2 separate regions of the Homo sapiens genome follow, and region 2 is linked to region 1. Evidence: fine-mapped expression QTL. A gene starts in region 1. The other region holds a variant in brackets. All regions are shown on one strand. Distances are between the middles of the regions.

Region 1 (8,000 bases):
GGTGTCACTGCACTCCAGCCTGGACCACAGAGCGACTCCATCTCAAAAAAAAAAGTCAGATAATCATTCTAGTCTGTGTTCCCGTATTACCACAATCTTTTGCTTTTTTTTTTTTTTTTTTTTTTTTACCCCAATGTGGATTCTTGCTCCAACCTAGTGATTCTCTACTCTGGCTGTGCATAAGAATCACCTGAAGAGCTTTTACAAAATACTGATGTCCAATTCTGCTCTGGGCAGCTGTTTTAATTGGTGTGGGGTGGGACCTGGGCATTGGTATTTCTTACGAGCTACCCACCTGGGTGATTCTAATATGCAGCCAGGATTGAGAAGCAATCTTCTAAGAGTGTGGTAGTGGTGCATAGGAAAGAGGCTGGCTTGCAGGAGAGCTTTACTTTTTGGTGGTTTAATGGTAACAAGCTTGCTGATGATGTTTACCATATAAGAGAGAGGGCCATATGTCCGGATTTGCCAGAAAACTAATTGATTTCTTTGCAAAACATGCTAACATTTAGTATTGACATGATGTATTCCTACCATCTCTCAGGACTGTAAGGAAATCTCAGGCAATCATCTATCTAATCTATTCCCCTGGATTAGATGAGGTTACAGAGTAAGAAATACTTATATGGATTAGCAAAACTTAAAGACATGTTTTTCTTTTTATTATTTTTTTTGAGACAGGGTCTTACTCTGTTGCCCAGACTGGAGTGCAATGGCGCAATCACAGCTTACTGCACCCTCAACCTCCCCAGGATCGGGTGATCTTTCCACCTCAGCCTCCCCACTAGCTAGGACTACAGGCATGAACCACCACGCCTGGCTAATTTTTGTATTTTTTTTGTAGAGATGGGTTTTCACTATGTTGGCCAGGCTGGTCTCAAACTCCTGGCTCAAGTGATCTGCCCACCTGGGCCTCTCGAAGTGCTGGGGTTACAGGTGTGAGCCACTGTGCCTGGCCTTAGAGACATTTTTAGAGGAAAGATAATGGACAACCAGAATGGCAGAAAGCCTGGGTTTCCCTTTTAGGGAAAAAGCAATTTCACTGTTCCAGAAGAAATCAGAGCCCCAGCCAGCCTGCCCTCCCACAGCCCCTTCTCTGAGGATTCCTGGCATGTGTCATCCTCCAGGGATGACTGCAGGATGGATGTGGCTGTTGGCGGCAGCAGCAGCTTTTCCTACCAGGGAAGCTGGGTCGGTAGACACTACACTGCTATTCCTGGGGTGGGGGTGGGGATTTCCGTGTATGTTTTATAGTTAGCTGGCCCCAAATCCGTGTGCTTTAGACCTAACCCTCTTCTCGGCTTCCACTGCCTTCTTCTCTCTCCTGCCCAGCCTGGAGTCGCAGGGGCAAGGCCTAGTTTTACAATGGCTGCCAGCCTTTCCCTTAGGGAGCCACATGCATGCGCTCACTTTTTCCAGTGGTCTTCTCAGTCTGATTTAATGGATATACCGGGACTGATGACACATCAGCATGGGATCCTTCTTTTGCTTCTTGGGTAACTGTCCTATTAACAGCTGTCCCAGGCAAAGGGAGGGGGAGAGTGTTGGGGGAAAGGAGGGGGTGGCTTCCTGGGTGAAGAAGGACACACCCTGGGTTTTACAAGGTTAATCAGCAGGTTCTGGGAAAGCTTGCACCTGCTCAGACTTGATCTGGAACTCTAGACAGAATGGAAGACAGTCTTTCTGTCTCCACTCCCTTCCATGGAGCATCAAATATCCTGGGCGCCCACACCCTGCCAGGCCTAGGCCTGCTGTTGCGACTGAGTTTGTCTCTACACCTTTACTCTCTTCGGCCCTTGCAACTCTTTCCCTTTTTCTGCCCACCTTTGTGAAATGGCTAAGCAGGAAACTCCACAGATAAACGATTGTCCAGTTTTAGTTTGAACTGTTAGGACTGAAAATTGTTCTGTATTTTTCTGTCAAAAAAAGACCAACTTTAGTATGCTCTTTTCACCTTCTCAAAATTGTCTTGTAGTTAAACACTGTAGTTGAGCCTTTATATCTCTCAATTTTATGTTTTGTTTTGTTGAGGAAGCATCTCACTGTTGCCCAGACTGGCACCATCATAGCTCACTGCAGCCTCAATCTCCCAGCTCAAGAAATCCTCCCACCTCAGCCTCCTGAGTAGTTGGGACTATAGATGTGTGGCACCAAGCCCAGCTTGTTTTTTTGTAGCGACGGGGGTCTCACTATGCTGCCCAGGCTGGTCAAGCAATCCTCCCGCCTCGGCCTCCCAAGGTGCTACTGTGAGCCACTGCGCCGGGCCCAGTTCTATGTTTAAAATACTTCCTTCTCAACCTTATTTATTTTTAGAGTTGATGGCCACACCTAAATATTCCTCCTTTCTTATACAATACCAGTCTTTATCTTCATTGTCTCACTACTTCGGGGACTGAATGGTCTCCTATTTTATTGTTAACATGCCATATCCTTCAAAACTGTACATCCTCCAAGGTGTGGTTAATTTCTGCTTTTAACAGGAAAATCAGAGGCCTGCCTGCTTGAGTCCCCCTTCAAGTACTCAGTATTTGAGTGTCTACTAAGTTATAACAGTTAACGCACAAAATTCTAGTCCTCATGTTGTTTATACTCAGGTATTTATTGGGAGACACGCGTCAGTAGTCCCTGATAAATGGAAAGATCGCTTGAGTCCAGGAGTTCCAGTCCAGCCTAGAATAGGTAAAACATGCTCTCTGAATTAGTCTTTGAAACTGGTAAACTAGCTCAGAAGTTTTTTTAAGAATTCCATGAGTGGTTTGCTGGTGTACGTTTATTATATGCAGTGAAAGTACTTAATCTGCAAACCACCCCAAATTAAGCCCCTAACTCGCAAGCACAAAATGGACTCGATTATTTACTGAGTTATCAGTTGGCCTTGTCCTTAGTTGTACAGGGACTAATGACTCACCTATAAATAATGGGCTCTTCTAAGAAGACACAGTTGAGTTGACACCTCTTTGTCCTATAGCTGGGAGGAACGCATTGCAAACGCCAACCCAATGATTCCCTAAATGGGGTCTTCGCATCAGCTGCGTTAAAATCACCCCAGCAGGCAGGTTATCCGGCCGCCACTCCAGGGTCATTAAATCAGACTCTCCAGTGGGACCTCGGAATTCGTAGCTTAGCAAGCTCCCCAAGTGATGCTGGGAGTAAACTAACGTTTGAGAGTCACAAACATGTTTTGGCAATATAACCAGATGGGACTGGAGAAATTAAAAAATGAGAAACATCCCTAAAAAAGCAAGACTAAGCTGCGTGGGAGGCCAAACGAGGGGGGTCCTTTGGGCTGTTTCTACCATGACAAAAATCGCCATTACCCCACACCTCTCACACCGCCAACGTTCCGCCAACGTTCCGCCAACGTCCCACCACCCTCATGATATCCGTCCGCGGTACTGCTCCAGCGAAGGTACCCTTGCCTGGGCCATGAGGCGCAACCGTCCCTCACAGCTGGGGTGGCTTCTCCAGGTTCGCACCGAGGGGAAGTTGGGGTACCGGTTTCCGCCGCCAGCACCCAAGATGGCGGCACGAGCGTCGCAACCACAAGAACCACATGCTTCGTGTCCCGCCTCAGCATTCTCGGGTCTCACTAGACTTTTGCAAGTCACTGTGGGAACCCTCAAGGCGAGGGTGTTCCGCACTCTGGCGGCGATACACCTTCCTATTCCCTGACCTAGGCCTTCATTCCCCCGCCACAGAAAGCGCTGGAAGCGCCCAACCTGGATACTTCACCCAACGCCCAAGCCCACTAACATCGCCCGCCGCGAAGGCGCGGCCGAGGGGCCCAGAATGCCAGACACTAGGGCCTTCGCCCTCCTCATTGGTGGGTCCATACCGCGGGGCGGGCCTAGGTACTCATTGGGCCGGGAATTATGTCAGTCTTGGGAAATCAGGTCCGGGGATGAGGAGGTACACTCAGCCATTGGGCCCTCTCTGCTGCCAATCAGAGGGACATCCGTCGACGGCCCCGGCCTCGGCTCGTTGATTGGAGAAACTGTTCCTAGGGTGTTTGCGGCGGGCGGGTTTCCGAGTGCGGTAGCAGGAGGGGGCGGGGAGGTAAGCGGAGGCTCCGAGCTCTAGGCCGGCCGGCGGTGGCGGCGGCGAGGCCGGGACTCGGGCTTAGGGCCTGCTGTGGAGGCAGCGGCGGACGCCGAGCTAAGCAGTGGGTATCGGGCACATTCCTTTCCCAGAAGGGAGGGTTGCAGCGCCGCGGGGCCGAGGCTTATGGGGCGACGGGATGGTGCTGAGGTGCAGGAGGCGGGGGCCGAGCGGGGTTCCCGCCAGAGCCCGGCCCTGGGCCTGACAGGGAGGGGCCCCGCGCGGGGCCGAGAGGAAAGCTGGCTCCGGGGTGGGATGGACTGGGCAGGGTTGAGGGCACGAGAAGGCGTGGTGTGAGGCCTGGACTTGGGAGTGGGGTGGGGCCATCGGGACGGAGGGCGGGGTGGGGTTTGCTGTAAGGGTGGGTCAAGGCCAGGGAAGTAGCACTTGTTCGCTGGCCGCCCCTGGAGGCTAGAAGCTCCGGCGCCGAGAGTGGGCATGGCGACTTGGTCTCAGCCGGACTCGGGTATCCGGGCAGGGTGGGACCAGCCTCAGGCTATGGGCCCTGCACCTACTTGATTTTTAAGGGACTTTGTCCGGTTCCTCGAACTTAATTGGCTCCTGGGAGGTTTTAGTAATAAATTGCGTGAGAACGGGAGGGTAGCGTAAGCAGGAATTCTGGGTCGCAATTGTGTTTACTCTGACCAGAGAGAGGGAGTGTGAGTGTGTGTGTGTGCGCACGTTCGTGTGTGTACGTATAGCTCGCTCTCCCCCTGTAGAATGAAGTTGGTAGATGGGTCACAACGCAGGAGAGGAGAGGCGGTATGTCTTGGTTTGTGACATTAATGGAAGCTCAAAAGTGGAGACCAGAAACAGATTTACTTCCTCTGCACTGGGCAGTCTGGCTAGAGAACGTGGCCATATCCTTCTGCTTTGGCTCAGAAGGTCATATGAATGAAAATAAAACCTGCCTATGCAAATTCTGGACGGAATAGTCCTGCGTAGTAGGGCCCCCACCATCCCTCTCCTTTTTTTCTTTCCTTTTCTTTTCTTTCTTTTTTTTCTTTTTTTGAGACGGAGTTTTGCTCTTGTTGCCCAGGCTGGAGTGCAGTGGCGCGATATCGGCCCACCACAACCTCCGTTTCCTGGGTTCAAGCGATTCTCCTGTCTCAGCCTCCCGAGTAGCTGGGATTACAGGCATGCGCCACCACGCCCGGCTAATTTTTGTATTTTTAGTTGAGATGGGGTTTCTCCATGTTGTTCAGGCTGGTCTCAAACTCCCGACCTCGGGTGATCCGCCCTCCTCGGCCTCCCGAAGTGCTGGGATTACAGGCGTCGGCCCTTTTCCTTTTTTTTCTTTTGTAAGTTGTGAGGATAGGAAAGGGAAATCAGATTTCAAAGTTCAGAAAACAAAAGGCATTCTTCTTCTGGGTGAAGTGGTGGCCTGAACATTGTCCTTTTGTCCTTCCACACTCTCACTGTTTAATAATCTTGCCTTTTTGAACTGAGAAAAGACAACTGTTATGGGTGGTTTTCTCCCGAGGGGTGAAAATCCAGCTTTACTTTTAAGACAGGAAATGGGCTTCTCATGTGAAAATAGAAGCTGGGTAATGCGCCTGTAGTGGGGGAGGAGGGCTGGTAAATAAAACAAAGGTGTAAGATATTTTGGATGACCTGGTTATTGTCTGCTTATTCAAACCAAGCTACATTTTAGGATATTGCACATTTAATATTCAGTAACTGAGATCATTCGTGATCAGTAGCTTTCTTTGATAGTTCTTCTATGATCGGTTGCTATATTTTGGGTTTTTTTTCTGAGAGTGTAAGTAGTCCTTTCTTCCTGTAAAAGTGGCCTTTAGGCCAGGCACAGTGGCTCACGCCTGTGATCCCAGCACTTTGGGGGGCCGAGGCGGGCAGATCACCTGAGGTCAGGAGCTTGAGACCAGCCTGGCCAACATAGTGAAACCCCATCTCTACTAAAAATACAAAAATTAGCAGGGCGTGGTGGCAGGCGCCTGTAATCCCAGATACTTGGGAGGCTGAGGCAGGAGAATCGCTTGAATGCAGAAGGTGGAGGTTGCAGTGAGCACAGATCACGCCACTGCACTCTAGCCTGGGCGACAGAGTGAGACTCTGTCTCAAAAAAAAAAAAAGTGAAAGTGTCCTTTGAATGTGTTTTCTACCTTCTACTGTGAAGGTTTTCCTACCCTGATCATGATGTGAAAAGTATGGAATCTTATCCTGTTGCTTTTGTGATTCCCATTTCAGGTTTCTCTGGAAACCCCCCTGGTAAGTGTGGAGGAGGCGGGACACTCTGACCCAAGACGAAAGGCCTGTAGCTCCAGCCAAAGAAAATAAACCTTAGGAGGGAGAAGGAAAAAAAAAATCCATCAGCTGTTCCTGAGAACAGCCTGCATTGGAATCTACAGAGAGGACAACTAATGTGAGTGAGGAAGTGACTGTATGTGGACTGTGGAGAAAGTAAGTCACGTGGGCCCTTGAGGACCTGGACTGGGTTAGGAACAGTTGTACTTTCAGAGGTGAGGTGTCGAGAAGGGAAAGTGAATGTGGTCTGGAGTGTGTCCTTGGCCTTGGCTCCACAGGGTGTGCTTTCCTCTGGGGCCGTCAGGGAGCTCATCCCTTGTGTTCTGCCAGGGTGGGGTACGGGGTTTGACACTGAGGAGGGTAACCTGCTGGCTGGAGCGGCAGAGCAGTGGCCTTGATTTGTCTTTTGGAAGATTTTAAAAACCAAAAAGCATAAACATTCTGGTCCTTCAGCAATGCTTTCTCTGAAGAAATACTTAACGGAAGGACTTCTCCAGTTCACCATTCTGCTGAGTTTGATTGGGGTACGGGTGGACGTGGATACTTACCTGACCTCACAGCTTCCCCCACTCCGGGAGATCATCCTGGGGCCCAGTTCTGCCTATACTCAGACCCAGTTCCACAACCTGAGGAATACCTTGGATGGCTATGGTATCCACCCCAAGAGCATAGACCTGGACAATTACTTCACTGCCCGGCGGCTCCTCAGTCAGGTGAGGGCCCTGGACAGGTTCCAGGTGCCAACCACTGAGGTAAATGCCTGGCTGGTTCACCGAGACCCAGAGGGGTCTGTCTCTGGCAGTCAGCCCAACTCAGGCCTCGCCCTCGAGAGTTCCAGTGGCCTCCAAGATGTGACAGGCCCAGACAACGGGGTGCGAGAAAGCGAAACGGAGCAGGGATTCGGTGAAGATTTGGAGGATTTGGGGGCTGTAGCCCCCCCAGTCAGTGGAGACTTAACCAAAGAGGTTAGTGGACCTGTGGTGGGTGTGTGGGGCCTGGGGCTTGGGGGTGGGCTGGTCCCAAAGGATTGTGGTCAGAACACTGAGCCCTGTAAAGAGCCAGACAGGTTTCAGCAGGGCCTCAGGCACTGTTCTTGGGTAGGGATGGGCTGAACTTTCTGACTTTAGGATTGGGGGCTGGGAGCATTTCCCTGTGTTGAACCATTGACCTACCTCTAAATGTACTGTCAGGGCAGTGGGAGGTTCCTACACATGCCAGGGTGTTTACTGCTTGGATTTCAGCGTGACTGCTGGAGGCCTGGGGTGGGGGAGGAGTCATGTTGTGATGGGCTTTGATGCAGTGTACATCTGTTGCTAAGACACAAATACTTTTTGGACTCTTGTTTTGTACCTCCCCCCACATCAGAACACAGACATACCCTGAAGTTCTCCTTTGTGGCGAGGCCTGTTGTTGTATTGTCCTGATAATTCAGACCTCCTGGGCCTGAGCCAAAGGGTAGATTTGGATAGTTATTCTTGGCCAGGAGAGGGCCAAGGCTTCCAATCTTTGCAAAAGGCCCACTGCAGGGAGTAGGGAAGAGAAGTCTGGGAGCTAGAAAGAGAAACTGCATTCTGCTGCCCAAGTCAACTTGCTTTGAGCTGTCAGAAGAGATCCTTAGCTCTTGTCACATGGCTGAC
Region 2 (15,672 bases), 27 kb before region 1:
GAAGCCTGAGGTGGTTGGCGTAAAAAATAATTTTGCTCAAGGGGAGGAACCCTTTGGAGTGACGAAAAGTAGAAACACTCATGTTCCAGAAGTGTTACCAATGCCAGGGAAAGCTTGCTTAAACACTCTCACAACATCCCAAATGCCAGCCTCCTTCCAATGTTCGCCGGAAAGTTCTGAGCCGTATTAGCAAATAAGAAGAAATGCCAGGCTGAGCTCTCTCTCCGAGGCTACTAAGAATCCTCATGCTAGAGCTGCAAGGGCCTTTAGAGATCTGGACCGATCCTTCATTTTACAGATGAAAAAACTGAAATCCAGAGAGGAATGACAACTGGCCAAGATCCCACAGCTAGAAATAGTGGAACCAGGTTTTTATTTCTGCAATAGTGGCCACTGTTCTGCCCTCTTTCCTCTCTCAGAGGCAACCAGCTGGGAAACTCTGGTTTCCAAGTCCTCTCTCAGAGGCAACCGGCTGGGAAACTCTGGTTTCCAAGAGGCACAGACAGAATCCCAAAAATCTCAGGCCTTTCCCAGCCCCTAGTCACCCTGCCTCCTGAAGGCCTGTCACCTACCTGAAGGCAGCTCCACTAGAGTGACAGCTCCTGTTGGCCCTGGCTGGCTCAGGGCCTCTGGGGAGGGTATGGGGGGATGGTGGGTTGGGAGAGAACTTTTGTGGGGCCTCCTTCAGTCAATGGTCTACAGCTCTGTCTTTGTCTGTCTGTCACTCAGAAGGGAACTGCTGAAGGGAGAGGTCAGGCTGGTCGGTAGAAAGGGAGAAAGAGGCCTATCCCTGTCAGAGAGGGGTTGGGAAGAAGGCAGGCAAGGGGACCGAAGCTCCTTCAACCTCCTCATCCTCTCCCACTCCAACTCCTGGGCTGTTTCCCCTAGGGAATTCCAGGCTTTGCTCATTTTAGGACCAGGGCAGCAACTGCACACAAAGGCCCTTCTCTTCTTGCCGTGTGAAATCCTGGCTCCCCATTGGAGAGCTACTCCCTTACCCTGCCCTGTCTGCAAGAAGAGGCTGCCAAGGGGTCTAACTCAAACCTACAAGGCAGGGAGTTCCATTGCGTTCCCCTTCCATGCAACCAGCACCCTGACTCCACCCCTGTGCTTGCCCGTGTCCCTGCTCGCGCCTGCCACATCAGATTCCCCAGGCTCCCTCACCCCCCCGTGCAATTTAAAGCAGATTCATCCCCTGAGAGCCCCAGTTTCCAGGCCACCCTAGCTTCTACTGTACACTATCCTATCTCCCCAGATTGTGCTGTTTCCAGTCTCCCCTTGTTCCCTCTGCACACGAATCTTCCTCCCCAGATTCAACTGTTTTCAGGCTACTCCCTCTGTCTGCCCCCTGTACACGACTGTCTCCCCAGATCCTGCTGTTTCTAGGTTCCCCCATATTTCCCCGGTATACAAATTGGCCTCCCTGGATTCAGCAGTTTCCAGAAGCCCCTTGCTCTCTCACTAGGCAGTTCCATCTCCCCAGATTCAGCTGTTTTCAGGCTCCCTTCATTTGCCCTGTACACAGGTACCCCTCCCAGGTTCTGCTGTTTCTAGGCTTCCCGATTTCCCTTGTATACGCATCAGTTTCTAGCTTATGTTGATCCCAGCTGCCTAAGGGATTCAGCAGGTTTAGGGAGAGTGGAAGGAAGAAGAGAGTCAGAAAGAGGAGGAGAAGAAAGATGGTCATCAGGGAAGCTCCGGATTTCTCTTGTGACCCTAAGCAGCTTGCATATGACAGCCTCTGGGCCTCTGCCTCTACAAATAGGTCCCTTAAGGCCATCTGCCCTGGGATACCCCAATCCCCTCCCCATTGCTGCTGCCCAGGATCTGAGCTTTAAGTTGGACATCCTCCGGAGGGCCCCCGTCTTGGCAGGAGTGCTTATGCTTGCATGAGGTGGGACAGGCAAGAGCCTTCCCAAGCCAGGAGTTCCCTTGTCTCTCCTCTGCTATTTCCTTCTTGCCTTCCCAGCACCCACGCCCGCCCCCTTTTTTTTTTCTTTTTGAGTTGGAGTTTCACTGTGTCGCCCAGGCTGGAGTGTAGTGGCGTGATCTCGGCTCGCTACAACCTCTGCCTCATGGGCTCAAGCAACAATCCTGCCTCCGCCTCCGGAGTAGCTGGGACTACAGGCGTGTGCCACCATGCCTAGCTAATTTTTGTATTTTTAGTAGAGACAAGGTTTCACCATGTTGGCCAGGCTGGTGAACTCCTGACCGCAGGTGATCCACCTGCCTTGGCCTCCCAAAGTGGTGGGATTACAGGCGTGAGCCACTGTGCCCACCCCCACCCCTTGTCTCTTTCTCATGTGTTGCACCTTAGCTCTCCTCAATTTATCCACATACAATTTATTTTATTTTATTTATTTATTATTTTTTTTTTGAGATGGAGTCACAAAGTGCTGGGATTATAGGCGTGAGCCACCACGCCTGGCCTTTTGTTTTATTTTTGAAACAGTCTTACTCTGTCGCCCAGGCTGGAGAGCAGTGGCATCATCTCATCTCACTGCAACCTCTGACTCTGGGGTTCAAGTGATTCTCCTCCTTCAGCATCCTGTATCCACATAGAATTTAAAGGAAACTCCAAATGCACTCCCAGAACTAAAGGGAGTACAGAACTAAAGAGTCACACTTTTTTTTTTTTTTTTTTTTTTTTTTTTTTCAGTTTTCAAGATGGAGTAGTATCAATCTCAGGCCCTGGAAACTGCCCCTGGACTAGTTTCCTGGCATGCTTCTCCAGCCTTTGTAAACAACTGTTTCATCTGCAGACTCCCTGCATCCTAATCCTCCTTGGGGCTGGAGGTGGGAGGGTATGGGAAGTGTTCTGCAAGGTACTCCAGTCTTCTTATCTTCTCTGACTCATTTAGCTACTGCCTGCAAAGTTTCCACTGGAATCTGGGGAAATGGTCTGATCCCTCATCGCCTTCCTCCATATACAGCTGCCTACCCATTAGACTAATCCCAGCCATTTGTCAGTCACGATGCTCCATCATACTGGCCCCAGCAAACTTTCTGGTTTCACTAAGAAATAAATAGGAAGGGCAGGCCCACTGGGTCCAGGATAGTGCCCTACAAGGAGACCTTTCTTCAAAATGAAATCCATACCTGGGTTCAGGCCGCATTGCTTCTGCTCCCAGCACCCGAGAGCATCCTCAATCACCTCACAAGTGGGAATGACAACGCCTGCCTCCTTCACTGAGATAGAGGTACAAAAAAATTACATGTGTGAAAGAAATAGAATACTTTTACGGATCCTGACAAATGTGAGTTTACATAAATCCTATTAAAAGAACATTGTGCAAGAAGCTTTTCTGTGTCTTGTATATAAATTATCCTCAGAAAAGAAGTGCAGCTGATGGGACTCACTTATTAATTTCATTATTTAAAAAACAGACGTGCTGGGCGTGGTGGCTTATGTCGGTAATCCCAGCACTTTGGGAGGCCAAGGCGGGAGGATCACTTGAGGTCAGGAGTTTGAGACTAGCCTGGCCAATATGGTGAAACCCTGTCTCTACTAAAAATACAAAAATTAGCTGGGCATGGTGTTGTGTGCCTCTAGTCCCAGCTACTTGGGAGGTTGAAGCACGAGAATCACTTGAACCCAGGAGGCACATGCAGCAGTGAGTCAGGATGGCGCCACTTACTCCAGCCTGGGCGACAGAGCAAGATTCTGTCTCAATAAATAAATAAATAAATAAATAAATAAATAAATAAATAAATAAAATAAAAATTAGAAAACGCTATTGGAGCCAGCCATGGTGGCTCCCAGCACTTTGGGAGGCCGAGGTGGGCAGATTGCTTGAGCTCAGGAGTTCGAGACCAGCCTGGGCAACATGGTGAAACCCCGTCTCTACTAAAAATACAAAAATTAACCAGGCATGGTGGCAGGTGCCTGTAATCCCAGCTACTCAAGAGGCTGAGGCAGGAGAATTACTTGAACCTGGGAGGTGGAGGTTGCAGTGAGCAGAGACTGTGCCACTGTACACTAGCCTGGGTGATAGAGTGAGACTGTTAAAAAAAAAAAAAGCATGCAAAGAAAAATGTGCATTGGGGTTTTGAGTCAAGAGCCCTGCTATTTTTTCTTACTGCCCAGGAAGGCACTCCTTGTCAAGGGAATTCTATTTATAAACGTTATATTCTCATGATCTGCAGAAAACACAGGGCAGAAAGAGGAAGAGGTAAGAGGGTTCCAGGAAACCCTCTTTCTTGTCTCAGTTCTGTCCCTTGTTAGCTGTGTGACATTGGGTAAGTCAACCTTTGAGTTTCACTTTCCTAATCTGAAGGCCTCTAGCTTGCTCTCCCAGAAAGATCCACTTTTTTTTTTCTACCTTAGAGTATAAACTTCAGTCAGTGCCCAAGCCCCTCAGACCCCTTCCTCAACCTCCCAGCTACCTTGGGGAATGGGTCCAAATCTCCAGAGTTGGAGGAAAAGGTCTGTATTTGTTTTCTGTTTGTTTGTTTGAGACAGAGTCTCACTCCATCACCCAGGCTGTAGTGCAGTGGCGCAGTCTCGGCTCACTGCAACCTCCATCTCTTGGGTTCAAGCAATTCTCCTGCCTCACCCTCCCGAGTAGCTGGGATTACAGGCATGTGTCACCATGCCCAGCTAATTTTTGTATTTTTAGTAGAAACAGGGTTTCACCATGTTGGCCATGTTGGTCTCGAACTCCTGACCTAAAGTGATCTGCCCACCTCGGCCTCCCAAAGTGCTGGGATTACAGGAGCGAGACACCATGCCCAGCCAGGTCTGTATTTCTTGACAGTGTTTCTTGATCAGAGGCCCTGTTTTCTCAGGACAATTGCTGTCCCAGGTGCCCAGGGTCTCTCACCTTCGTGTTCCCATGGAGGTGCTCACAGCTCTGATGTGGGAACCCCCAAGGTTCTCCTCTGTGGTCTAGGGAGTATCTAGGAATGGACTGCAATGCTCAGCACTGTGAGATAACTCCTGCCCAATAGAGAGTAGAGATGCCCTCTAGGTCTGGTTCCTGCAAGCCTTTTCATAGTCCCGTCACTGATCCCGGCCAGGCTAAGGATGAAAGAGGGGCTTGTCTTACAGCACCATCTTCTGGGCAAACCTGTGAGAGCTACTTCTTCTTGCTGCCATCTGGAGAACACTGAGATTTTGGGGGACTTTGGGTCCCAGAAGTTTTGTTTGTTTGTTTGTTTGAGATGGAGTCTCGCTCTGTCACCCAGGGCTGGAGTGCAGTGGTGCGATCTTGGCTCACTGCAACTTCCATCTCCCGGGTTCAAGCGATTCTCCTGCCTCAGCCTCTGAGTAGCTGGGACCAGAGGCGCACGTCACTATGCCCAGCTAATTTTTGTATTTTTAGTAGAGACGGGGTTTCACCATGTTGGTCAGGCTTGTCTCAAACTTCTGACCTCGTGATCTGCCCACCTCGGCCTCCCAAAGTGCTGGGATTACAGGTGTGAGCCACCACGCCCGGCCGATTCCAGAAGTTTTTATCTTACCTGTTTCCCCAAGATAAATTAATTCTGGACTTTTCCAGCCATCTCTTAGGAGAGGATGTTCCAAGAGCCCTCCAACCTTCCAAACACAAGGCTGCTAGGAATGGTAAGCAGCTGAAACCAGTCTTCCAATCATTCCACCCAGAACCTGAGTCCTCACCTACTCACCCCATATATCCCCACCCCAGAACACCCTGTCACTCACTAAGAAGCTGTTGTCTGGAAGCAAGGTTATAGCCTCATCACTTCCAGAGTTTTCTTCTATCCTCAAGTTTATTTGTTTGTTTGTTTCAGATGAGGGCTCACTGGCAGCCATGAGAGTAAAACACATATTTTCAATCTCTTAAAAATCAGGTGTCTGGATTGGCTGTGATGGCTCATGCCTGTAATCCCAGCACTTTGGGAGGCTGACTTGGGTGGATCGCTTGAGTCCAGGAGTTCAAGACCAGCCTGGGCAACATGGCAAAATCCTGTCTCTACAATAAACAAAAAATTAGCCGGGTGTGGTGGCATGTGCCTGTAGTCCCAGCTACCTGGAGGTTGAGGCTGCAGTGAGCCATGATCACGCCACTGTACTCCAACCTAGGCGACAGAGCAAAACTCTGTCCCTTAGGAAAAAAAAAAAAGGCTAGGCATGGCGGCTCAATCCTGTAATCCCAGCACTTTGGGAGGCTGAGGCAGGAGGATCACTTGAGCCCAGGAGTTTGAGAACAGCCTGGACAACAAAGTGAGACCCCCATCTCCCTACCAAAAAAAAAAAAGCAAAAAAAAAAAAAGCAAGGTGTCGTGGTGTGCACCTATAGTCCAAGCTACATGGGAAGCTGAAGTAGGAGGATCACTTCTCCCCAGGAAATCAAGGCTGCAGTGAACCGTATTCATGCCACTGCACTCCAGGCTGGGTGACAGAGCAAGACCCAGTCTCAAAAAAAAAAAAAAAAAATCAGATGTCTAGACAAAGAGAAATTGTGGATCTGGTCAAATGGAATCAGATCCCTCTTGCTACTTCTTTTTCTTTCATTTGAAGTGTATGTGTCTATTTTCAGAGTGGGGTACGTGAGAGTGATAAGAGGGCACTAAATATATAAGATATAAAGTAGACTTGTGTTTTTTTTTGTTTGTTTGTTTTTTGTTTTTTTGAGACGGAGTTTCGCTCTTGTTGCCCAGGCTGGAGTGCAATGGTGCAATCTCAGCTCACTGAAACCTCCACCTCCCGGGTTCAAGCAATTCTCCTGCCTCAGCCTCCCGAGTAGCTGGAATTACAGGCACCTGCCACCATGCCTGGCTAATTTTTTTTTTTTTTTTTTTTGTATTTTTAGTAGAGACGGGGGTTTCACCATCTTGGCCAGGCTGGTCTTGAACTCCTGACCTTGTGATCCACCTGCCTTGGCCTCCCAAAGTGCTGGGATCACAGGCATGAGCCACCGTGCCCGGCCGACTTGTTATTTTTAAACATACTTTTCAGAACCTAAATATTCAGATCATTGTCCCTGACAAAATGGTCCTTTTGGAGGGCCTTTTTTGGAATGATTGCCTGCAATTATCTGAATTAATTCAAGCACCAACTCTTCAAATTCTGAGAGTGGACTTGATTTTTGCAAGCTGCTTGGTGAGTAAGATCAGCAATCAAGCTGGGTGGTACTGTTTTAGATCAAGAATGAGAAGTGACTGTAATGAAAATATTTCGTTTTGGGGGTCATAAATTGACCCTGAATTCCTGTTCTCTTCTTTAACCCAGGTTCCATGTTGCTAGCAGAGTTCCTCCCTCAAAACATAGAGCTGATATCACTTAACAGCTTGAAAATCTTCAGTGGTTCCCTATTACCTTCAGAACACAGGCCAAGTTCTTTACTGACTTTTTGTTTTGTTTTGTTTTGTTTTTTTGAGATGGAGTTTCGTTCTTGTTGCCCAGGCTGAAGTGTAATGGCACGATCTTGGCTCACCGAAACCTCTGCCTCCTGGGTTCAAGCGATTCTCCTGCCTCAGCCTCCCGAGTAGCTGGGATTACAGGCATGCACCACCACACCCTGCTAATTTTGTATTTTTAGTAGAGACAGGGTTTCTCCATGTTGGTCGGGCTGGTCTCGATCTCAGGTGATCCACCCACCTTGTCCTCCCAAAGTACTGGGATTACAGGTGTGAGCCATGGCGACTGGCCACAAGCCAAGTTCTTTAGCTCTGTGGTTGGGGTAAAGAAGAGCCAGCAATGGAGTCAGACCAGAATGGGTTTAAATCCCACCTATGAGCTCTGAGGCAAGTTATTCAGTCTCTCAGACTCTCAGCTCTCTCATTTGTAAAAAGAAGGCTAACGGGCCAGGCGCGGTATACCCAACACTTTGGGAGGCCAAAGTGGACAGATCGCTTGAGCTCAGGAGTTTGAGACCAGCCTGGGCAACATGGTGAGACCTCGTGTCTATTAAAAAATTTTTAAAAATTAGCTGGGTGTGGTGGTACATGCCTGTGGTCCCAGCTACTCGGGGGACTGAGGTAAGAGGATAGCTTGAGCCCCGGAGGTTGAGGCTGCAGCGAGCCTATCAATACCTACTTTGTTAGGTTGTTTTGAGGACAATGGTAATTTTAAGGTGTATATAGTAGCAAACTCAATAAATAGCAGTCATTCTTCAGCATGGCATTCATTGCTCACTGCGACCCAGTTGCAACCTATCTAGAAGAAACCTCAGATCTCAACACACTCCCTGCAGACACACACCATTCCAGTTACATTTGCCTACTGAAATTCCTTAAACAATACAGAGATTTTTTTTCTTTTTCTTTTTTTTTTTTTTTTTTTTTTTTTTAGACAGGGTCTTGCTCTGTCCTCCAGGCTGGAGTGCAGTGGCATGATCTCAGCTCACAGCAGCCTCAGCCTCCTGGACTCAAGTGATCCTTCCACCTCAGCCCACGGTGCCCCCTCTCCCCCCAGTAGCTGGGACTACAGGCACACACCACTACACCCAGCTAATTTTTTTTTTTTTTGTAGAGGCAGGGTTTTGCCATGTTGCCCAGGCTGGTCTCGAACTCCCAGACTCAAGCAACCTGCCTGTCTCACCCTTCCTAAGTGCTGAGATTACAGGCATGAGCCACTGCGCCCAGCCTAAACGGAGATTCCTTACCTCTGGCCTTGCTTATGTTGTTGCTCCCTTTGGGGTGTCTCTTTCCCCATCTTCCTTCTTTACATGTTATGTAATACACCGTTTCCTCTGTGAATATTTATCATTTCCTTATCTGCATACATGACTTTGTCCCCAGCCAAATTGTAATCTCCTTGAGTCAGGAACTGTGTTTCCCAATTCATTTTAGAAGCTCCCAACAATCCCCAGCAAGGTACCTGGCCTGGAAACAGCCTGTTAGTAAATGTCTGTTGAACGAATTCATTCCAAAAGAGTTTATTTTATTATTATTATTAACGTTGCTTTTCTTACCAAAGGGTGCATTTTGAGGAATGGCGTTAATCTATATGTGCAGTATAAAATTTACATGTGTCTCACACTCTTATTTATTTAGAAACTCATCTAACATGTTTACCAGTTTCTGTTCATAGAGATGAGGAAGAGATTAGGAAACAGATGAGGACCATACACACATTGATGCTAGAATATAATTTGGCAGCCATTCGATTAATTTCTTTTTTTTTTTATTGAAGTATGACTTACCTACAGGAAAGAGCACATATCTTAAGTGTAAACTCTGTGACTTTTTTTTTTTTTTTTTTGAGACAGAGTTTCACTCTTGTTGCCCAGGCTGGATTGCAATGGCAAGATCTCGGCTCACTGCAACCTCCGCCTTCCGGGTTCAAGCAATTCTCCTGCCTCAGCCTCCCCCAGTAGCTGGGATTACAGGCACCTGCCATCATGCCTGGCTAATTTTTGTATTTTTAGTAGAGACGGGGTTTCACCATGTTGGTCAGGCTGGTCTCGAACTCCTGACCTTGTGATCCGCCCGCCTCAGCTCCCCAAAGTGCTGGGATTACAGGTGTGAGCCACTGCGCCCGGCCTGTGACTTTTTACTACTACTCAGATCAAGATAAAGAACATCATTTGATTTTTAAAGGCGTTTCTACTTTCAAATATCTCTTAAATCCCTTCCTGCCTTTTAACCTCCACCCTCACCCCACTACGGAGTCTAATCAGTCTCTCTCTTTCTTTCCCCAGTGCCTGGCTCATGGCAAACACTCAAATATTTGAAATAATGAATCAACAAACAAATATTGTTGAATGAATGAGACCTAAATTGGAAGGAAATGGAGGTCTGTAAGGTTGTGCCCAGACTGTTTTGGGTAAATTATTCAACATTACCTGCATCGGCCTCCAAAGTTAAAGGGTATCTAGTAGGAATTTAGAGGTAAGATTTTTTTTTTTTCCCCCGCTATATAGCAAAGTTTCAAAGGGTGGTTAAGGGCACAGAAAATTTGAGCCTCGGGCGGTGTCCTGCTCATCCCCCTGCACCCCACACCCAGGCCTGGCTGGCCCCACCCCCGCCAATCTTTGCAGCCCTGCAAAGCGCCCAGCCCGGCTGCGGTCCCGCCAGCGGGGAGCCATCCATCACCGCCTGAATGCCAGCCAACCCGAGCAGCCCCGCCTTCCTGCCAGCCAATAGCCGGAAGGCAGGGGGCGTGCGGGGCTCTAAGTGGTATAAAAGGGGTCCGAGGGCCAGGCCGCGCTACCTCTGCGCCCCCAGTTGGCTCTGCTTGTTGCTGGCGTCCTGTTCCGTGCCAGAGCCCCCGGGCCGGTGTTTCTGTGCGTGCCGTCTGGCTGGGCCCTGGCTCCTGGGGTCTGGGTTTCAGACGTGCCCCGGTGCCCATTCTGCTGGAGGAAAGAAGAGGCCCTGAGGCCCCCTTCCCTTATACACTTGGGGCCCGCAGGGTCGCCCACGAGGGCAAGGGGGTGGAGGAATGCAGAAAGATGCAGAGGGGCCCTGGGGATGGCAGGACACTGGAAGGCAGGCCCTGGCTGCTCTCCCGCACGGAACCGCCGGCCGCCCTTCCCGAAAACCAGTCCTCCGCGCTCCCCTCCGCGCCCGCCGGCTCCGGCCTGTGGCAGCGCTAATGAGGCAGTCTGGAGGAAGCCGGTGCCAGCGGGCAGGACTCTGGGCGGCAGGCCAGGCTTGTCATCCTGGCGGCTCTGCCGAGCTGCGGGCGCCACGTGGGAGCTGGGGGCACAGCAGCCGGCGGCCCTCCACCCCCAGCGGGGTCTCCGCCTCAGCCCCCGGAAAGCTGGGCCTGCAAACTCAGGGTCCTCTGGAAGGGGCAGCGCCCTTCCTTGCCGGCCCTCCCGGGTCCTCTGGCAGTGCTGCGCAGCCCGCTCTGCGCTGTCCTCTCCGCCGCGGCGTGGGTCCGTCGGCTGCTTCGCAGCCGCGCCGCTCCCCACAATCCCTCAGCCATCGCGGGCGAGGACACCTTTCCGGTCGCCTCTCGGCATTGCCATGCCCCCTCAGCCCCTTCCTTTTAACCTAGTACGGTTACTGTGTGGGCCAGGGGTTCGGATGGGCCTAGGGCAGGGATGCGCGAGAAAGCCACTTGTCCCCAGCAGTTCCCCATCCGGAGCCCCGCCCTGCGAAAACTACACCAAACACGTCAACCTGAGGCTCAGTGTTCCCTTCCGTAAAATGGGGAGAGCATCGCGTAATTCACAGGATTCGGTGAGCCAGTTTGT[G/T]TGAAGGGCCCAGCCTCCTGCCTGTCCCTTTACATTCCCGTCCCTGCTACATTGGAATAGCAGGGCCGAGGCGGGCGCGACCGCGTTGCTAAGAAGCGCATTTGCCCGTCCCTCCTTGCGGTCGCTTAAGGGTGGTGGAGGAAGCCAAGCCCTGGGTGTGGCCGCATATTTGCCAAAATATTTCTGGAAAATGTCTCCTTTCTTGTCGCCATACTAGCCCCTGAACTCCACGGAATTTAACCGAATACTCTTTTTTTTTCTCCCCTTCCAAGAGTTGCCATTTTGCATTATTTACTGGGACGGGTTACGTACTCAGCGCTTACAATGTAAATGTTTACATAACTATATCATTTTCTCTAATTGCAGAAGTAGTCAAGCCCGTTATAAATGTCCAATCTTAAACAGTTTTATAATGTAGGACTTGAAAGCCGCAGGGACAACTTCTATTAAGGTCCACGGCTCGCCACTTTCCCTCCTTCGCTGAAATTCCTGTGCCCACGCTGGCGCAGCACTAGCAGGGTGGGTCACGCGTGCAGGTTGCTAGGGCAACGTCCTGTCGCCGGCGTCGGAAACCAACCAGTAACTCTCAGGAGCCGGAGTCGGGTCCGCCCTGGGGGCGGAGTTAGTCAGCAGGTCGGTCCGGCGGGAGCGCGTTTCCTGCCGGTCCCTGCAGGTGGCACCATAGGATCGCGGATGCTTTCCTGGGGCGGGGCTTTCCTGGGGCGGGGCTTCCCGCAGTGCTCAGCGCACTCCAGGGGCGGGGCCGGGGTGGAGCCGGGGTGGAACGTGAGCCACCAGCTGCAGTCCGCAAAGGATCGAGGGAAACGAGCTGTCCCGGGACGCAACGCTAGACAAGCTCAGGGACGCATTTACAGGGACGCAGAAAGTGTACGCGTCAGAGAGTGGAAAGGAGAAAACAGGTTCTGGGACGGCGACAGAGAAGGGAAGTCGTGTCGCCCAGAAAGGCTATACAATCTCCACCCTTCCCGTTTGTCCCTGCGACACCCTTTCACCCTCCTGTCCCTCCGGACCTGCAATTCTTCACACCCTCTGCAGCGCACAGGGTGCTCAGGACACATGTGCACGGTGGGGGCTGGCGATGCTTCCTCGCCCCCACCACCCGCAAGCTTGCAGAGAGCTGTAGTGCCCAGGATGTATGCCAGGATAGGAATTCCACGGTTCCAGGCATGCCAAGAAAAATAGCCATGCTGTTTCTCGGTTTGTTCAGAGGAAGCCTTACCTCTCTTCCCTTCTGGAGTTTGGGAATGGAAAAAATGACTCAAGGAATCCCCAGCGGAGCTACCATGTATGTACTGCATTGCAAAATAGGGGTACCATATTTTGCTCTCCCCTACCTGGCAGTATGCGCCACACATGGGGCTCCGTGGTATCAGCGTCGCACCCCCTCATGGTGTTAAATAGTCCCCTTTCCCTTGTCCCACATCTCTGCCCAATCACACAACCACAGGGACACGCCCCACCCTGGTACTGGATATCCCCACGATGAGCCACAGAAAGTGCAGGAGCCCTTATATGAACACACACACACACACACACTTCCTAGGCCAAGAGAGAAGGAGACCCTTGGCAGAAGACAAAAGCAGGTTTATTAGGGCCCTGGGGCCAGGAATGCCTAAGATATGAGTTAAGGCCAGGGCCGTGAGAAAAGGTGACTCTCCTGAGGCCAAACCTTTGCATCTCAGAAGCCCTGGCTGGAGACCTTAGGAGTCAGTTCTGGGAGGGACCTGGGGATACAGAGGGGTCTCTCCTGACCCTGGGATCTTTGGGCTTTTGCCAGGATTGGGGAAATGATCTGGGGGGCAGGGAGCCTTGAATCCACAGCCTTCATTTCAATAACGACCATTTAATTTGTTCCTTGGCAGACTGAAGAACCTGGGGTGGGGTGGGGGAGGTTGAGAGAGAATTGAGAATGTCAAATGCCTCCATACACAGTCATGGGGAGGTCCACAGCCCACCTTGCCGAAGCGCCCCTGCAACCACCGGTCACTAGGTGGCAGCAGCTTGTCTCCACTTGGCTTAAACGCGGCCAACCCTCCAAGTCAGAAAGCGCAGACCAAACCGGCTGCAGCCAGCTCCCACCTCAGGCCCAAGCCTGCCCAGACCTCTGGCTCCTGCATCTGCAGCGTGGGTGTGGCAGCAGCCTGTCTCCCCGCTGTCATGCCATGAGAGTTCCCGCCCACAGTGCCACGTCCAGGCGGAGACGGGGCCCAGGCCTGACACTCCCTGTGCTCAGACGCCTCAGCAAACCCCTAGCTCTGGCCATGGCTGGCAATGTGTCCTCAACACCCCACCGCAACCCACTGCTGATGTGGCATAGCTGGCAAAGGGTGGCCAGCCAGACCCTGCGGTGGGATGCCTGGTGGAAAGTCTCAGCCCAGTGCTTACACAAATCCATATAAGTGCACACGTGCATGCACAATACCAAAGCAGGAGAGGGGGACAGGACTCAGGTGTGTCCCTCAGATTGTCCCTCCAGCCACTCAGCCTTATTCCCCTCTAGAGAAGGAGGGAACGCTGTGTCTCCTCCTCCTGCACAGTCTCCCTCCTCTCTTGGGGACAGTGGCTTAGGGTTCCCCTGATTCTCCTAGCCAGAATCTAACTTTGTCCTCATTTTATCCCCCATTGGCTACCTGTAGCTTCCTTTGTTTTTACTCAAGAATTCCATCAAAAATGCTATGTTTTCATTCTTTCTCCCTTTGGAGAAATACTGATGGTTATTCAGCATGTGTTAACTGGCTTGGAGCCCTACTAAGAGCTTGTCACGCATTGGCTCATTGAATTCTCATAACTCCATGAAGAGGGTCCTGTTATTATGTGAGGCCCAGAGAGGTTGAGTAACTTGCCCTAGGTCACCCAGCTTTAGGTGGTAAGGTAGAACACGTACCCTGGGATGACTCCCATGAGCACCTGTGTTCTTATCTGCTCTGCTTATTACTCCCTACCCTCTTTCCACTCTAAAAATTGCCTTGCAGCTGCATTCATTCCAGCATGGTATGAGGAAACATGGGGAATCAGAGGGGAGGGCGAAGCAGAGTGAGCGCTAAGGGCAGTGCAGGAAAATGGGCGCCACACCTGGGACTCCACACGAGACAGCACAGGCTCATCTCGGTAGGGCCACCACAGCACGAGGAGTTAGCGCCAGGGCGGGAAGTTCCATACAAGCAGGATTAGTCTGAGCAGAGAGACCTGCAGGTGGACAGAAGAGAGGTCAAGACAGTCGTCCTGAACTAGCAGGAAGTTTGTGCAGCTGGGGAACTGATCAGGCTTCAGAGCCAGGAACCTCCCCCTGGCCTTACGCTCTGCAAGCACCTCCAGATAAGACCATGCAGGGTTGTGGCAGGTTCTTCCATAGCCAGGTCACTCAGGGGTAAGGTGACAAGTGATGAGTGGGGAAAGTCAGATCCTATCATGGGTTTGAGAGTCCCTTAACAATCCCAGTGTGCACCCTAAGTGGCAAGGACAGGGGTTAAGAGCCAAACTCCTATTTGGTACCCTTTCCAGGTTTCGGTAGAGGGCGCATCAGAGGCCTGAGTTCCCAGATTTTTGGGGTGCACAAGTGACCCAGCCATCTCCAAGGTAGGCAGCTCATCCTAGTTTCAATCCAACTAAACCAAGCCAGGAGATGAGGTGGGCTGATGGTAACATGCCCATCCATCCATTAGTACCCAGCTCCCCTGAGTTGGAGAGCCCGGAGGCCTCCAGTGAGTCTTTCCAAGATATGACCTGTCACTGCCTCATCCCTTCCCTTCTCACCCCTGATTTTTCAGACTTGATAACTTCACTGGGTCCCCCTAGGATGCTCTAGGATGCTCTGCTCCCCGTATCTCTCTAGACCATTTCTAGCCAAGGCAGATGCAGGGGGGCCTACCTGGGCCACACTCTGTTCAGTCAAGCCGCCATCATCTGCCTGTAAGGAAGCAGAGTCAAGGGGTGGGGTAGGGCCAGCATGAGGGTCCTGGGTCAGGGAGGTGAAGGAAAGGGGCTTGGGGGTATGGGTGAGGTGGTGCAGTGGTTAGGGTGATTCAGAGCTGCACCTGTGTCACTGGTTAATAGAAGTCCTGCAGCCTGTCATTTGGAAGCCAGGACCTCTGGGATTGTGCTATGGTGCGTGGAGGGTGAGGGAAGATGGGAAGAAAGATGGGAAGAAAGGTTTCATCCAGACATGAGAAAGCCAAACAAGGCAGGGAGGTTCTATCCATACCCCTGACCCCCAACCTCAAGGCCAAGGCAGCCACCTAGTGCCTCTTTGAAGATGTATTTATTTCCCCAGTCTATACTTCCTACCAGGAAAGAGGTGAGGTACTTGTGCTCCTAGCCGGGGAGAGGACAGGAAGATTTCTTCCATTAACTGGCATCCCACCCAGAAACTGCTGCTCATCTCACCCCTAACAAGTGTGTCAGCCCAGTGGTTGGCTTCTGCTAGAGGAGCTTGGGCTTCTACCATCTAGGCCCTAGCAGCCCTATTCCCAGGGAGGACAGGAAGGGCAGCCTAAAAGAGGAGGTGTCCAGGAAGACTCTTACCCTAAAATTCACCTTCTGGATC

Evidence for each region. PIP is the estimated chance that this variant, and not a neighbour inherited with it, causes the effect.
Region 2: its variant is fine-mapped to the expression of NFE2L1 in whole blood (TOPMed, PIP above 0.99).

Annotation. Positions count from the first base shown.
Region 1 is chr17:48,044,301-48,052,300 of GRCh38, forward strand. It overlaps NFE2L1 (NFE2 like bZIP transcription factor 1), which reads left to right and starts at 4,059. Exons shown (of 6, transcript NM_003204.3): 1 at 4,059-4,162; 2 at 6,307-7,328. The coding sequence starts at 6,819. It overlaps NFE2L1-DT (NFE2L1 divergent transcript), which reads right to left and starts at 3,753. Exons shown (of 2, transcript NR_170231.1): 1 at 3,325-3,753; 2 at 2,581-2,670. It also overlaps a transcript of COPZ2 not described here. RefSeq lists enhancers at 2,831-3,434, 3,279-3,468, 3,435-4,036, 3,539-3,778, 4,037-4,638 and a silencer at 4,189-4,468.
Region 2 is chr17:48,013,475-48,029,146 of GRCh38, forward strand. COPZ2 (coat protein complex I subunit zeta 2) reads right to left here. Exons shown (of 9, transcript NM_016429.4): 7 at 15,651-15,672; 8 at 14,998-15,036; 9 at 12,693-13,001. The coding sequence ends at 12,954. Among named protein-coding and RNA genes, the nearest start is that of MIR10226, 12 kb to the right of the region's middle. RefSeq lists enhancers at 1,551-2,052, 2,053-2,552, 4,230-4,329, 12,754-13,312, 13,313-13,869 and silencers at 10,899-11,028, 14,253-14,519. The variant G/T (reference allele first, on the strand shown) is at 11,109.